Linked DNA regions of Homo sapiens. The protein of the gene in region 3 purifies or fractionates together with the protein of the main gene of each other region. This does not show direct contact. Each region holds a gene or a part of one and is shown on either strand. Other genes may lie near its edges.

Region 1 (3,564 bases), on a different chromosome or scaffold from region 3:
AAAGTGCTAGCATTACAGGCGTGAGCCACCGCTCCTGGCCTCATAGCAAAACTTTATGGCAAGAATGATCTGTTTATAACATATGGTTTTTAAAAAGTGGATTACCAACCTTAAACTGCTAACCACCAGGTCAAATGTATTTTCTTTGAAGGGAAGGAATTCTTCATCAGCTAAAACGCTGACAGTAGGTATTTCTGTTTCTGAGGAATTTTTCTAATGTTAAGAAAACGAAAGATCAAAATCACATTTATGTAGAATCTCAATTACTAACACAATCACTGTTTGTTAAATTGAAGTCAATGTTATATTTACTTGGCAGTTTCTACCCCCCTTCCCAAAGGTGGCACAGAGAAGGCACCCAAAAAGCATTTCTTAAATGACTTAACATCAGCCAGAAAAAATGGCTAACTAGTTGAAACAACATAAACAGGATACCAACCTCACACCAAAACAAATCTCAGAAAGCTAGTTTGGCTGGGCGTGGTGGCTCACGCCTATAATCCCTGCACTTTGGGATGCCAAGGTGGGCAGTCACTGAAAGTCAGGAGTTCGAGACCAGCCTGGCCAACATGGTGAAACCACGTCTCTACTAAAAATACAAAAATTAGCTGGACGTGGTGGCACGCACCTGTAATCTCAGCTACTCGGGAGGCTGAGGCAGGAGTATCGCTTGAACCCGGGAGGCGGAGGTTGCAGTGAGCTGAGATCGCACCACTGCACTCCAGCCTGGACAACAGTGCAAGACTGTCTCAGAAAAAAAAAAAGAAAAAAGAAGGCTGAAAGTTTTAGTGAAACAACCGAAGTACTAGATGAAAATATGGGTGGACTGGACATTTTACCCTTAGATGAAAAAGCCTAGGTAAACATAATTCAAAAGCCAGAAACTGTAAAGGAAAAGACTGATATATTTGATGATAAACTAATTAAAAACTTCTATTAATAGAAATCAATAAACAATGTAAACAACTGAGGAAAATATTTACAACATATACAATGAAGGATTAATATCCCTAAAAACCAAGCTCTTACAAATCACCTAGAATAAAAACACAAGATAGCTAAAGAGGACAAGGTGCAGGCATATCACAAAATTATTTACAAAATTCACAAGAAATACCAATAGTCAAAAGATATCAGCAGCTGTCAGACTGACCCAGACGAAAAGGCTGGCCCAGTGTTGCCAAAGCAAAGTAGTAAAAAGTACCTTTGTCATTGTTCAGTCTTTCTAAGGGCAGTCTGAAGATGTATGTCAAAAAATTTTTAAATGAACATCAAAATGAATCCATAAATTCCGCTACCAGGAATTTATACCCACGGAAAAAAATAAATCAAACATACAATGTGGCTTCACATAAGGATTTTCACTGCAGTGTTGGTTATTGAGAAACTAGAAACGTAACTGCCCTTCAATAGAAAGTTTAGCTAAATAAACTATGGAGTATTCATATATTAGAATACCATGTAGCCATTTAAAAAGATGATATATGACACACATAAGTATAAATTCACTGACAAAAAAAATGATGTGCCGTAAATAACATGGAATATTAGCATAGTAATGTTCATACACAGTTGTGTGTTGGGGGGGCGGGGACAGTTATATGTCTGCAAATGTGGAGACCAAGTGCCACCAATGGTTGCCTCTGAATGGTAGGACTAGGGGTGATAGGGGTGATTTTTCCTTTGTTCTTGATATTTCCTGTATGAGTTCCTTTTCATGTGTCAGAAAAGAAAGCTAGTTTGAAGGAAATAAAAATAAAGAAATAAAATATGAGAAAACACATCACGAGATTAGAAACCAACAGTATTAAAAAGCTACCTACCAAAGCATTTTCTGCAATGTCAGCTTGGAAAAACTTTCCAATAGTTTCCTGCAATGGAATAACTGAAGCTGAAACAAACAAATCCAGTCACAAACAATTGCTGACATTTCTAAAGGTAAAAGTGTTAATTACATTTTAATTTTCAGCTTTGTAAAGGTATATTTCTGCATAAAACCAGTATGGTACACAAATACTTTTAATAACACATATCCTTTGCTATATTTAACTATATGTAATAAAATAGAGAACATGAGTATGCGTATTCAACATTCCGAATTTACTACACTGGGTGAGGGCTTCCGTGTTAACTTTTCCATGGCATAACATGCTAAGAGCTATTTCCCCACTCCTGTGTCACAAAGGACCTGCTATGAGTTTCCCGCCTTTTAGTTGTTCATCCAAAGAGTTTACAGAGTAAAGAAAGACTTACAGGTAGAGGCTTAGGGTTCCATTTTCCCTGTTTCGCCTACCCTCTCTCCCTTCCAAAAGGAAAGGAGACTGTGCTATTTCTGCACCAGAAAAACACTTTCTTTCCCCCTCAGCCCTCTTTTCTCCGGGATCCTGCTCTCTCCATCTCCATCTCTATCAATCTTTAGTCTGTGTCTTCTGTGTCTCCTTCCTCCACCTTACAACAGGCACAAGCTTTCCAATTACAAAAAATCTCCTCCCTCTAGGTACCTTCTGGTTGTTTGGTTTATAATCCACAACTCTACTTCTTCCTAGATTCTTTCTCCCCATTCTGGGTATCTCTTTGCTTTCACTGCTCTGCTAACACTATCTGCAGTCTGTGCTCACTGCTCTCAGTCCTGCTTCACCTGACCTCTTTGAAGCACAGCATTGTCAACAGCCTACTAGAAGCTTCTTCAGAAGCTTCTACTCTGGCTGCCCTTCTCTATTAGAGAAGCCAATCCTTTTTTACTTTACCCACACCCACTTCCCTGTCTGAAACTTGGAAAGATTTCATGCTACCAACATGATGTTGCTAAATATGGAGCTGGGAAGAGTGCTCAATAGCTCTCATGAGCCAGCTCCAGCACACTCCTGTGAGGGGTGAAGAATTAGATGGACAGGATTATCTATCCCTGTCTCTCACTTGAAAATTTGAACTAAGAGACTTCGAGATAATAGCAGAGGTCCCTGGAGTTGGAAGAACATTTAGACTTCAGGGTATAGGCAGTGGTGTGCTGGCTCTTGGTTGGGGACTGCTTTGTAGCATTTGCCAACTTCCATGGTATAAATATTCCCACCAGGGCTGATGTCAAGCTATCAATATGATGTCACAGAACAGAGGTTGGGAAGAGATGCTAACAATTGGCTCTCACAGGCTGGCCTAAGCTAGCTTCAGCTACCCTTGGGTGTAGCATATTCATATGGGGCCACACACACTGATGAACACTACTATGGATAGACTACAGGGAGTAAAAAGAATGAAGGCAACCAGACAGCATTCATGTAGTACCAGAGTGCATGCGAACAGGAGGAACATTGTTATGGTGTTTCAAAGTTCCCATCTCTTGTGAGGCCTGGCTCTATTTCTGGATCCCTGAGTTACATAAGAGCCTCTCTGTAACAAATGTCTCTGTGTTTAAACTGGCTTCAGCACATTTTTGCTTTCAACAATCAAAAGATACCTTACTAAGACACTTTCCATCTTACTATTCCTGGCATCTTTATTGGCTCTTCCTCTTTCTCCCAACCCTAAGTACAATTGCAGAAGGTTCTTTTCTATATTCTTGCCTCA
Region 2 (3,564 bases), on a different chromosome or scaffold from region 3:
CCCCCCACCCCGCCTGGCCCAGACCCCAGCTCACCACAGGGTCCAGCTCCACACTCAGCACTGCCCGGAAGCAGCCCAGCAACCTCTGTGCCCGCACCAGGTCAGCACTCGGTGGGTCCTGCAGGGGCCGGTAGCCTGCCACTGGGTAGGTGCCAGAGTTAAGCCAGCAACGCCTTATCTGTGGCTCAGACATGCCTACTCCCTCTCCACTGCCCACCCCCCACCCCGGGGCCTGGGCTCTAGGGCAGGGCTGGTTTGCATCACAACTTGCCCACTTATTCTCCCTAGGGAGGATGCTTCACATTCCTCATCTGTTCAGTGGAGACAAGGGCACCCAACCAACCAGGCTGCTGCGAGGAAAGTTTTCTTCGACACTCTACATGGCCCCCCACTAACTCTGCAGCAGCCAGGGCCTGCCACCAGCCCATGGCACCCCTGGGGTAGGGAGCCCCTCATCCCAGCCTCCCCAAGAGCTTCTGAGCAGCCCACAGCCATCTTCACAAAATGATATCGCAGAGGACGGCTGCCAAAGTTGAAGGCCACGGACTCCTTGAAAGAGAGGCTGATGGCTGGGAAGTAGGCCATACCCAGGCCCCTGGACAGGTTCTCAAAGGCAGTGCCCAGTGATACACCGTTCCTGGGGAGAAGGGTGGGTCTGTGAGCCAGTGCTAAGCATGTGGCTGCCCACCCTCAGGCTATCAAACTCAGTCTGGCCCCTTACAGGGCCCAGGAAACTGGGGGCAGTCTGGGGAGGCCCCAGGGGCCAGGCCTGTGCATAGAGATAGGAAACTCACAGGCAGAAGGACAGAGTGCCATCATCCAGGTCAATCAGGCAGCTCACGATGTCCCCCGCTGCCCACGCCTGCCATGAGAGGAGGCCTCACCAGATGCACAGAAGCCCAGCAGCCTGCTGACTCTGAACCCCAGCTGCGTTTCCAGAACCACCCAAGGGAGACTAGCCACAAGGACAAAGGACCTGGGTCCCTGACCCTTCCCTGGTGCCCTGTAGTCCCTTATGGCTGCCCAGTGGCTCCAAATAAGCTGTAGTAACAGTCATGGGGCGGATGACCCACAGGGGCTTGGCTCTCACCTTGCCATAATTCGTTGTGGTCACATTCCACTTGCGCACGCGGTTGCCATCATAGGCATAGGAGTTGTGTGTATCTCCAACCCCCTCCTAGGGAGGAAATGCCTATGAGGTCCCTGGTGAGGCAGGCAGGGTCTGGGCCAGAGCCCACCAATCACCAGCCTTGGATGCATATGGCTCTACAGAAGGGAACAGATGATCTGAGGGAAAGAGTAAGAGGTATTCTCTGAGCTGGGGTGCCTGGGATTGGGTGGGACACGTTTCTTCTCCAGAGGGCAGTCCAGGTTAGTTAGGGTCCTAGGCAGTTCTGAGGGGATCTGGAGACCTGATGAGGCCTGTGGCAGGAGAAGCTCTCCCTGGGCCCAGGGAGGGGTCCCCTCCCCAACGTGTACCTCCTGGTTGAAGCGGCAGCTGATGGTGCACCAGCCGATCTGCATGAGCCCCTGGGAGGAGATGAGGACCTCGTAGAGCCATTTCCCTGGAAAGAGCTGAGTTAGGGCCACGAGGTGGACAAAGACTGCCTCTTGCCTCATGCCTGGGCCCTTAAACTTTCTCCTCACTACCTAGGCCACAGCAGGGTAAGGTCTCACCTTTGTACACGCATGTGGTAGAGCGGATGGTGCCAAAGTTGCTGTGTCCAATCACCTGGGTGAAGAAGAGGGGTGGTGGGCTAGCTCCCAGGCACACAGAGCATCTCCCCAAGGGAAAAAGACCCCATCCCCAACTGAGCCAGCCCTGGTGGTATTTGCCTGTGGCGGCCAACACTGCACTGTGCCTGAGGACGGTGGGAGCGGGTAGGCTTGTATCAGGAAGGATCCTGGGCCAAGGCAGGATGAGAGAGGGACTCAGGGCTGTGCTGGGAAGGGCTGGGGGCTGAGTCCACATCAAGACTGTTTCAGGGCTTTAGTGGGAGAGTTTGAGGACTGAGAACACAATGGTCTGGGGCCACGTCAGGACAAGTTTTGGCTGCAGCCCCATCAGATGAGTAGAGAGACTAGGGCCACATCAGGAGGAGCCTGGGGCTATGTCAGAAGGGGCTGGACCTGGGTCTCCACACCTCACCCTCACTCACCCCCAGCAGGTCATCATCCACCAGGAGAAGCCCCTCAAAGCCGCCTGTGTGGTCCAGGACCACAGTGGATGGGCCAAGCCGCCCTTCAACCTGTCCTGAAAAGAGGAGAGGTGGGGTCAGGCAGGGTGGAGCATTTGACAGGATGCATAGGGTGTCCTGAGCTCACCAGACGTCTCCAGGCCCGCTACGTCCCAGCTCTGCACCTCCCAACCCCACTCCAGAGGTGGCCACATACCCTGGCTTTCCTCCTCCTCATTGTCCACCTGTAGCAACTGGTCCAAATGTTCTGGCAGGTTCTGGAAGTTCAGGGGTTTCCTGGGGAGAGTGAGAGGCTGCCAGGGGTCCACAAGTCCTTGAAATCAGCCAGATGACACTAAATCCCATCCTTTCCCCTGAGCTCACAGGGGGGCTGCCTAGACTCCAGAAAAAGGGCTGTGCCTAGTCCTAGACTCTGGCATGCAGGAGGTCAGAAGGCCGAATTCTCCACTAAACTCAAAAGTATAACCAGTCCAGGCCGGGTGTGGTGGCCCATGCCTGTAATCCCAGCACTTTGGGAGGCCGAGGCGGGCAGATCACCTGAGGTCAGGAGTTCGAGACCAGCCTGGCCACATGGTGAAACCCCATCCCTACTAAAAATACAAAAATTAGCTGAGTGTGGTGGCGCATGCGTATAATCCCAGCTACTCGGGAGACAGAGGCAGGAGAATAGCTTGAACCTTGGTGGGGCAGAGGTTGTAGTAAGCCAAGATCGTGTCATTGTACTTCAGCCCGGGCAACAAGAGTAAGACTCTGTCTCAAAAAAAAAAAAAAAAAAAGTATGTGGCCAGGTGCGGTGGCTCATGCCTGTAATCCCAGCACTTTGGGAGGCTGAGGCGGGCAGATCACGAGGTCAGTAGTTCAAGACCAGCCTGGCCAACATGGTGAAATTGCGACTCTACTAAAAATGCTGGGCGCGGTGGCATGTGCCTGTAATACCAGCTACTTGGGAGGCGGAGGCAGGAGAATTGCTTGAACCTGGGAGGCGGAGGTTGCAGTGAGCCATGATCGTGCCACTGCACTCTAGTCTGGGTGACAGAGCAAGACTCTGTCTCAAAAAAAAAAAAAAAAAGTAGCCCTCTCTAAGTCTTAATTCCTTCATCTGTAAAAACAGAATAGTGACTTATGTTAGAGATGCTGTGAAGAGCCCAGGGAATAACAAGTGCTGTCTGCATAGCACATAACCTGTCCGCTCTCAAAGGTGGCTGTGCTGATGATGTCTGGAAGAAGAAGGCTGGGAGAAATGCTGGTTCCCAAAGTGGTCAGTACCAAGGCCACCTAGTCCAACCCTTGCCCCTAGGCCTGTGGTTCCTTTGGGGCAGATTCCAGTCTCGCCACCACCCAGCCAGGGGAGTCTGTGTTGAATGGG
Region 3 (3,564 bases):
CCCCAGGTCCCGGTGCAGAGGGAGTGGCCTGATGGTGACTGGGCGGAGGCCTCTGCCCCTCACAGGACGTCGTCAAAGTCCAGCAGCTTCGAGTGCTGGCGGCTCTTCCACAGGCGATACAACCGGAAGTCAAAGTACGTCTCGATCATCTGCTTCCCTGGGCGGAGCGGGGGCAGGAGGCTCAGGCCTGGCCGGCCCTGGGGATCCCACCCCACCGTGGCCCCGCAGTGGCTGCAGAGCTTCGGCCCAGCCTGGGTAACTCACCTTGGGCTGAGAGCTCCAGGGGTGACTCGAAGGTGACCCTATAAGGAGTCATGAGGGTCCTGAGGTTCTGGAACAGCTGGAGGAAGCGGGGTGCCATGAGTCCGAGGCAGAGAGATGGGGAAGGAGGAGCGGGGAGGAGATGGGGAGCAGGGCCCACCCTCTTTTTTCAGACCCCCCAAACCTGGCTGGGCTCAGGCATAAAGGATTTCTAGGGGAATGCCCGGGGGAAGGAAAAAAAATGCCAGGAAACATGGAAGGCTCTGCCCTGTCTGTCCACGTCGGGGGTTTCCAGAGGTCTGGGGTGGGGCTTGGGGGTCACTGTACCTTCTCTCCATTGGGGTTCCCCAGAATGTAGCAGCCCATGATGTGGATGACGTTCGGCTCTGGGTTCACTTTGCTCATCAGGCGGCTCAGCCGCTTCCAGAAGCTGGTGGAGAGGGGTGGGTCACCCAGTGGCAGGGGACAGGCACCCCACTCCACAGAGCGGACCGTGGAGGAGGGGCTGTGGGGGAGGGACATGCCAGGGCCTGGACTCTGCCTCCAGCCCTCCCCGCGCCCAGGGCACCCGGCTTCTCACTGAATCATGTCCTCTTCCTTCTCCACTTTGGCAAAGGTGGCCACCTTGTTCTTGAGGAGATAGAGGTGTCCAGGACCTCCCTGTAAGAAGCTGTGGTCAGGCATCTGCTCCTCCTTCCTCCCCCTCTCCGACACACATGCACCCACGCACATGCGTGGGAGGTAGTTTTGGTCTTCATCCCCCGGCCACGCTTCTTCCCCTTGATCTCCCCCACCACACGTCTTTCCCTTGATCTCCCCCACCACACGCCTCTTCCCTTTGATCTCCCCCCCACGCCTCTTCCCCTTGATCTCCCCCACCACATGCCTCTTCCCTTTGATCTCCCCCACCACACGCCTCTTCCCTTTGATCTCCCCCACCACACACCTCTTCCCTTTGATCTCCCCCACCACACGCCTCTTCCCCTTGATCTCCCCCACCACACGCCTCTTCCCTTTGATCTCCCCCACCACACGCCTCTTCCCTTTGATCTCCCCCACCACACGCCTCTTCCCTTTGATTTCCCCCACCACACGCCTCTTCCCCTTGATCTTCCCCCGCCTCTTCCTCTTGATCTCCCCCCCTCGCCTCTTCCTCTTAATTCCCCCCAATGCCTCTTCCCCTTGATCTCCCCCACCACACGCTCTTCTCCTTGATCTCCCCCCAATGCCTCTTCCCCTTGACCTGCCCGCCACGCCTCTTCCTTTTGATCTCCCCCCCACACCTCTTCCCCTTGATCTCCCCCCCACGCCTCTTCCCCTTGATCTCCCCCTCCACACGCCTCTTCCCCTTGATCTTCCCCTGCCCCTCGTCTCTTCCCCTTGATCTCCCCTGCCACGTCTCTTCCCCTTGATCTCCCCCACCACGTCTCTTCCCCTTGATCTCCCCTCCACGTCTCTTCCCCTTGATCTCCCCCTCCACACGCCTCTTCCCCTTGATCTTCCCCTGCCACACGTCTCTTCCCCTTGATCTCCCGCGCCACACGCCTCTTCCCCTTGTTCTGCCCTCCACGCCTCTTCCCCTTGGTCTTCCCCACCACACGCCTCTTCCCCTTGGTCTCCCCCGCCACGTCTCTTCCCCTTGGTCTTCCTTGGCCACACGCCTCTTCCCCTTGATCTCCCCACCATGCCTCTTCCCCTTGATCTCCCCCTCCACACGCCTCTTCCCCTTGATCTTCCCCTGCCCCTCGTCTCTTCCCCTTGATCTCCCCCGCCACGTCTCTTCCCCTTGATCTCCCCCGCCACGTCTCTTCCCCTTGATCTCCCGCGCCACACGCCTCTTCCCCTTGTTCTGCCCTCCACGCCTCTTCCCCTTGGTCTTCCCCACCACACGCCTCTTCCCCTTGGTCTCCCCCGCCACGTCTCTTCCCCTTGGTCTTCCTTGGCCACACGCCTCTTCCCCTTGATCTCCCCACCATGCCTCTTCCCCTTGATCTCCCCCTCCACACGCCTCTTCCCCTTGATCTTCCCCTGCCCCTCGTCTCTTCCCCTTGATCTCCCCCGCCACGTCTCTTCCCCTTGATCTCCCCCGCCACGTCTCTTCCCCTTGATCTCCCCCGCCACACGCCTCTTCCCCTTGGTCTTCCCCCGCCACGTCTCTTCTCCTTGATCTACCCCCCAAACACCTCTTCCCCTTGGTCTCCCCCAGCCACACGCCCCTTCCCCTTCATTTCCCCCCCGCCACACGCCTCTTCTCCTTGATCTTTCCCCCTCAATGTCTACACCTCTTCTCCTTGGTCTTCCCCAACCCCAGCCTCTTCCCCTTGGTCTCCCCCAGCCACACCTCTTCCCCTTGGTCTCCCCCAGCCACACGCCTCTTCCCCTTCGTTTCCCCCCGCCACACGCCTCTTCTCCTTGATCTTTCCCCCTCAACATCTACGCCTCTTCTCCTTGGTCTTCCCCAACCCCAGCCTCTTCCCCTTGGTCTCCCCCAGCCACACCTCTTCCCCTTGGTCTCCCCCTCAAACACCTCTTCCCCTTGGTCTTCCCACCCCAGCCTCTTCCCCTTGGTCTCCCCCAGCCACACCTCTTCCCCTTGGTCTCCACCCCCACGCCTCTTCCCCTTGGTCTCCCCCACAAACACCTCTTCCCCTTGGTCTCCCCACCCCAACCTCTTCCCCTTGGTCTCCCCCAACTTGACTTCTTCCCCTTGGTCTTCCCCTGCCCCACCACGATTCTTCTCCTGGTCAGGAGACGAGCACTGAGCCCCACCTGGCAGAAAATCAGCATTTTCCAGATCTTGGCTCCCTTGTGGTAGACGTTCAGCTTCCTCTCTATCTCCTCTGTGGGAGAGCGGGTGTGAGTGCTGCGGCCCCCACCCCAGCCCCAGGGGCACCCCCACCTGTGTCTGCCCCTCCCAGGCCTGGAACCAGCAGAGAGAAGGCCAATGAGGCACATACCAAGGATGTCCTCGAAGGTTGCGTGCTCATGGTCCTGGGGACAGACACAGGCCACAAGGCCACATCAAGGCTGCGTCAGAGCCAGCAGCGCCACAGCACCCTGGGGACCTGGGGTGCCGGCGCTGGCCCAGGGTGGGGCCGCAAGAGGGCATCTGTTGGGGGCAGGCCCGGGGCGGGACTCACGTAGAGGATGGGGATGATGGAGGGGTCATCCCGGCGGATGATAGTGGGGATGTACTCAGCCTTGGGCACCTTGGAGGAAATGAGCTGCGGAGACAAAGAGCTGCTCAGGGGCCCCAGGCCCATCCAAAAGCCAAGGGGCTGTGGGAGCCCCCATGAGGCTACC
Region 4 (3,564 bases), on a different chromosome or scaffold from region 3:
TGAAGAGGCGGCTTATCCTGGGAGAGACAGGCGAGGTGGGATGTCTGAAGGGATGGGGACAAGTCTGCCTGTCTTCCCACACCCCGCCCCCACTCCTGAGGGCCCACACGGCTGGAGGGGCGAGGGACCTGACATGGGTGACTCTGGAACTGTTCCAGGCCTGACAACATCTGCACACACCTGGGGCAGCCAGGCTACAGTTAACAGGACACACCACACATCCTGCCTACACCCGCAAGTCACAGCCAGAGAGGGACACACCCAGCTGTACACACCAGCCTGCCAACACACGTTATGTTACAGGCCTGGAAAGGTATAGCAAGACACAGGCACCTTACCCCCTACACACAAACCAGCTGGTCACAGGCCTGGTGCACACACCCTTGCCAGATAGACCCACCCAGAAAATGCACATGAACCATCCAACACCCCGGCCAACAGCCACACACCCAGTAAACGAGCCAGGACATACATCCTCCCCACCCAACCCATGTAAACGAGTGTGAGACACACAGGCCTGTGCAACAGGCACAGGGTCACATGGTCCCTTCCTTCCCAACACACACATATCATGCAGATCCAGACACATCCAGGAAAGGACACACACCTGTCAACACCAGGCACCCAGAGACATGACGGCACAAATCCCCTACTGCCGCTCACTCAGGGAGCCCACAGGGAGAAACAGAGGCAGACAGGAGGGATGGCAAGTGTGCCACAGCACACACATGCAACAGGGCCCTTGCACACATGCCACAACACAGGCATACACACACGCACACAGAAACCATGCACACACATGCACCACAGTGCATACATATGTGCACACATGCCAGAGCGTATGCACACCACACCTAGTGGTGGCGGATGGGGACTGGAGAGAAGGCAGGTGCCGGTACCCTGTCCTCTGAAGGGCAATGGTTCTAACAAATGCAAGACCAGGAGAAGGGTCTTGGGGAGCCCCTGATGCCTGTCCCTGTCCACTCCGGGGAGAAGGAGCCAGGCCTCAGAGCCAGGGCTGATACCACCTCCCCAGTGCCCAGGGTGGCCAGCTCTGGTTTGGCAACTGCCCTGGCAGACCCCAGGTCGAGCTAGGGATAACTAGGAACCCTAAAGAGGGGTGGGAGTAGCCAAGGGCTTGGTTTGGGAACAGGAGGGAAGTTGGCATCATTTCCCCAAGGGCAGCACCACCACATCCTTCAGCAGGCAGGGCCACACTCCTGCCCAGCTGGACCCTGCCAAGGTGGCAGCTTCTCTGCACAGCTGGGAGAACAGTAGCTCCAACTTGGGACCTAGGCTTCCCAGCCCGGCCTGCACACAATCTGGAGCCTAAGCCCCTCACTCTCTGCCTGCACCAGCAGGGACCCCTGCAGGGATGCCCCCTGTTCTAACAGCAGCCCACTCCTCTGTCCACTCCAAGTCAGCCGTCTCCAGGGCCCTGCCCCACTGCCACTTGCACCCAGGACACACTAGCTGGGCAGGAGCTGAGGGAGTCAGAGCCCCCAAGTCTGCCCTCAGGGCCTCCCGTCCACACCATCCTATGCTCTGATGGCCCAGCACACTCAATGCATCAGCCATGATGGTCTGCCCGGGTATGGAGTCTCTGGGAACACGGTGCAGGTTTCTCTCCTAGCAGGGTAGTATAAAGGGCACGGTTTAGCTGGGCACCGTGGCTCACACCTGTAATCCCAGCACTTTGGGAAGCTAAGGTGGAGGACTGCTTGAGGCCAGGGGTTCGAGACCAGCCTAGGCAACGCAGCAAGACCCCATCTCTACAAAAAATTTAAAAATTAGCTGGGTATGGTGGCATGCACTTGTAGTCCACTTGGGAGGCTGAGGTGGGAGGATCACTTGAGTCCATGCGTTTGAGGTTGCAATGAGCCGAGATCACACCACGTACTCCAGCCTGGCCAAGAAAGACAAACGCTGTCGCTTAAAAGAAAGAAAGAAAAGGGCAAGGCTGTCTCGTGGATGGGCATGGGGAGGTCAGAGTCTGCTGTGAGCCCGAGTCTGTGGACCCAGAGCTGCAGCCACCCAGATACAACTCATCTCAGAGCTCCAAAGGCCGATGAGCCCTGTCAACCCCCTAGGCCTGGTGACAATGGCACTGCAGGTCACAGCCCCTGCTGGAAAGGCTGTGGGTTCCACGGCTGGCTCCAGTTACAAAGGCCCTAGGACCTGGCCTAGTAGAGCGTGGGCATCCAGATGTCAGAGTGAGGGCCACCCAGCATTCCTGGAGACAGATGGGTCTGTCCCAGGCTGCCAGATACCATGGGCAGTGGTTGGCAGGTGGCTGAGGTCCATGTGTGGCACCGGTGGGAAGTAAGAGCTACATCCAAGGTGAGTCAGCAGATCCAAACCCTCAGCCTCCTGGGAACTCTCCCCACCCTTCCCAGTGGAGCTCCAAAGTCCATGTAAGCAGGCAGCATTCTAGGCCTGGCTGAGTTCCCAACCCTTCTGACGTCAGGTCTGGCTGAGGCTCTAGCTGGTCCTGTTGGTCTAGAAGACTCCTGATGCACCCACATTCCAGGGCTGGATGGGTTCTAGGTTGTCTCATCGGTCCAAGTTTAGAAGGTTTTCCATCTGCCTTATTTCAGGACAGGCTGATTCTAGATCTTTCCATGGTTCAGTATAGGCTCCTGGATCAAGCGGCAGCTGTACCGCCTCTCCCAGGACAGAGGCCTTTCATGCCCTCAGCGTCTGAGGCTGCCAAGGACGTGAGCAGGTTGAGGAAAGGTGAGGATAATCACCATGGAGGAGCCCTCAGCCATTCTCAGCCCTGCAGGTATGAGTTCCCAGCTCTGTCAGGGGCTCCACGTTCCCTGTGGAAAATGGCCCAGGCCACCCTCTGAGAGAGGATGCAGGGTTTGAGGGGCCGGCTTCCGAAGTCCTCCATGGAATGAGGTGGCCAGTTCACGCTGCAGCAGGTGGGACCCTCAGGGGCAGAAAAGATGCCTCCAACCACCTGCCCTGTGTGCACAAGGGGGAGCATCAGGATGGCCTTCGTCTTCTCGTTTATTTCCTTTTTTTTTTTAAGCTCTGGCTCCAATTTCCTGGCTGTTTCAGGCACCAGGTTTTAAGAGTTCTGAAGCTCCTGGCCATCTTCATTTGATGCTTCCCATAGTCAGGATGGATGTCAGAGTGTGGCTGTGATGGCGGCAGCTAACGGGGGTCAAGCAGGCAGGACACCAGCAAGGGGGCCGGCCCAGGGAATCCACTCCCAGCCCCGGCTGTGCTTGGCTGTCTCGGGTGAGGACCAGTGACTGCTCCTAGGCAGACCAGAGGAGTCACCCAGCACGAGACTCTCCAGCACCCAGGCCACCCCAACCGCCGAGACCCAGAGGCTCAGGCAGAGTTCTCAGGGGAGCCGAGGGTAGAGGTCCCAGCTTTTACAATGCTGCCTAGGGCAGGTCATCTTCACCATCCAGAAACCCCCTGAGGACCACAGCACTCTTAGTCCTCCATCTCCAGGTGTCTCCTAGATCAGTGACACTAGGTGAGATTGATTTTTTCCAGAATTGGTAGAAAACTGCTTATATTATAATAATCCACTACAGGAAGGAC

What was found.
Region 1: the proteins of NSMF (region 3) and NDUFAF5 purify together in Homo sapiens (affinity purification with mass spectrometry; 2 studies listed by BioGRID and IntAct, with this or other methods). This does not show direct contact.
Region 2: the proteins of NSMF (region 3) and RNF123 purify together in Homo sapiens (affinity purification with mass spectrometry; 2 studies listed by BioGRID and IntAct, with this or other methods). This does not show direct contact.
Region 4: the proteins of NSMF (region 3) and KCTD15 purify together in Homo sapiens (affinity purification with mass spectrometry; 2 studies listed by BioGRID and IntAct, with this or other methods). This does not show direct contact.

What each region holds. Positions count from the first base shown.
Region 1 is NC_000020.11:13,791,487-13,795,050, reverse strand, and holds part of NDUFAF5 (arginine-hydroxylase NDUFAF5, mitochondrial), read right to left. Parts: intron 1,892-3,564; coding exon of another isoform or gene 1,872-1,891; coding exon 1,824-1,871; intron 214-1,823; coding exon 110-213; intron 1-109. UniProt on the Homo sapiens protein: Arginine hydroxylase that mediates hydroxylation of 'Arg-111' of NDUFS7 and is involved in the assembly of mitochondrial NADH:ubiquinone oxidoreductase complex (complex I, MT-ND1) at early stages. May also have methyltransferase activity.
Region 2 is NC_000003.12:49,696,053-49,699,616, reverse strand, and holds part of RNF123 (E3 ubiquitin-protein ligase RNF123), read right to left. Parts: intron 2,475-3,564; coding exon 2,395-2,474; intron 2,255-2,394; coding exon 2,160-2,254; intron 1,733-2,159; coding exon 1,678-1,732; intron 1,566-1,677; coding exon 1,480-1,565; intron 1,178-1,479; coding exon 1,091-1,177; intron 863-1,090; coding exon 795-862; intron 638-794; coding exon 512-637; intron 150-511; coding exon 35-149; intron 1-34. UniProt on the Homo sapiens protein: Catalytic subunit of the KPC complex that acts as E3 ubiquitin-protein ligase. Promotes the ubiquitination and proteasome-mediated degradation of CDKN1B which is the cyclin-dependent kinase inhibitor at the G0-G1 transition of the cell cycle.
Region 3 is NC_000009.12:137,449,335-137,452,898, forward strand, and holds part of NSMF (NMDA receptor synaptonuclear signaling and neuronal migration factor), read right to left. Parts: intron 3,486-3,564; coding exon 3,402-3,485; intron 3,253-3,401; coding exon 3,219-3,252; intron 3,102-3,218; coding exon 3,031-3,101; intron 922-3,030; coding exon 842-921; intron 753-841; exon of another isoform or gene 692-752; coding exon 589-691; intron 341-588; coding exon 265-340; intron 158-264; coding exon 60-157; 3' UTR 1-59. UniProt on the Homo sapiens protein: Couples NMDA-sensitive glutamate receptor signaling to the nucleus and triggers long-lasting changes in the cytoarchitecture of dendrites and spine synapse processes. Part of the cAMP response element-binding protein (CREB) shut-off signaling pathway.
Region 4 is NC_000019.10:33,803,316-33,806,879, reverse strand, and holds part of KCTD15 (BTB/POZ domain-containing protein KCTD15), read right to left. Parts: intron 22-3,564; exon of another isoform or gene 18-21; coding exon 1-17. UniProt on the Homo sapiens protein: During embryonic development, it is involved in neural crest formation. Inhibits AP2 transcriptional activity by interaction with its activation domain.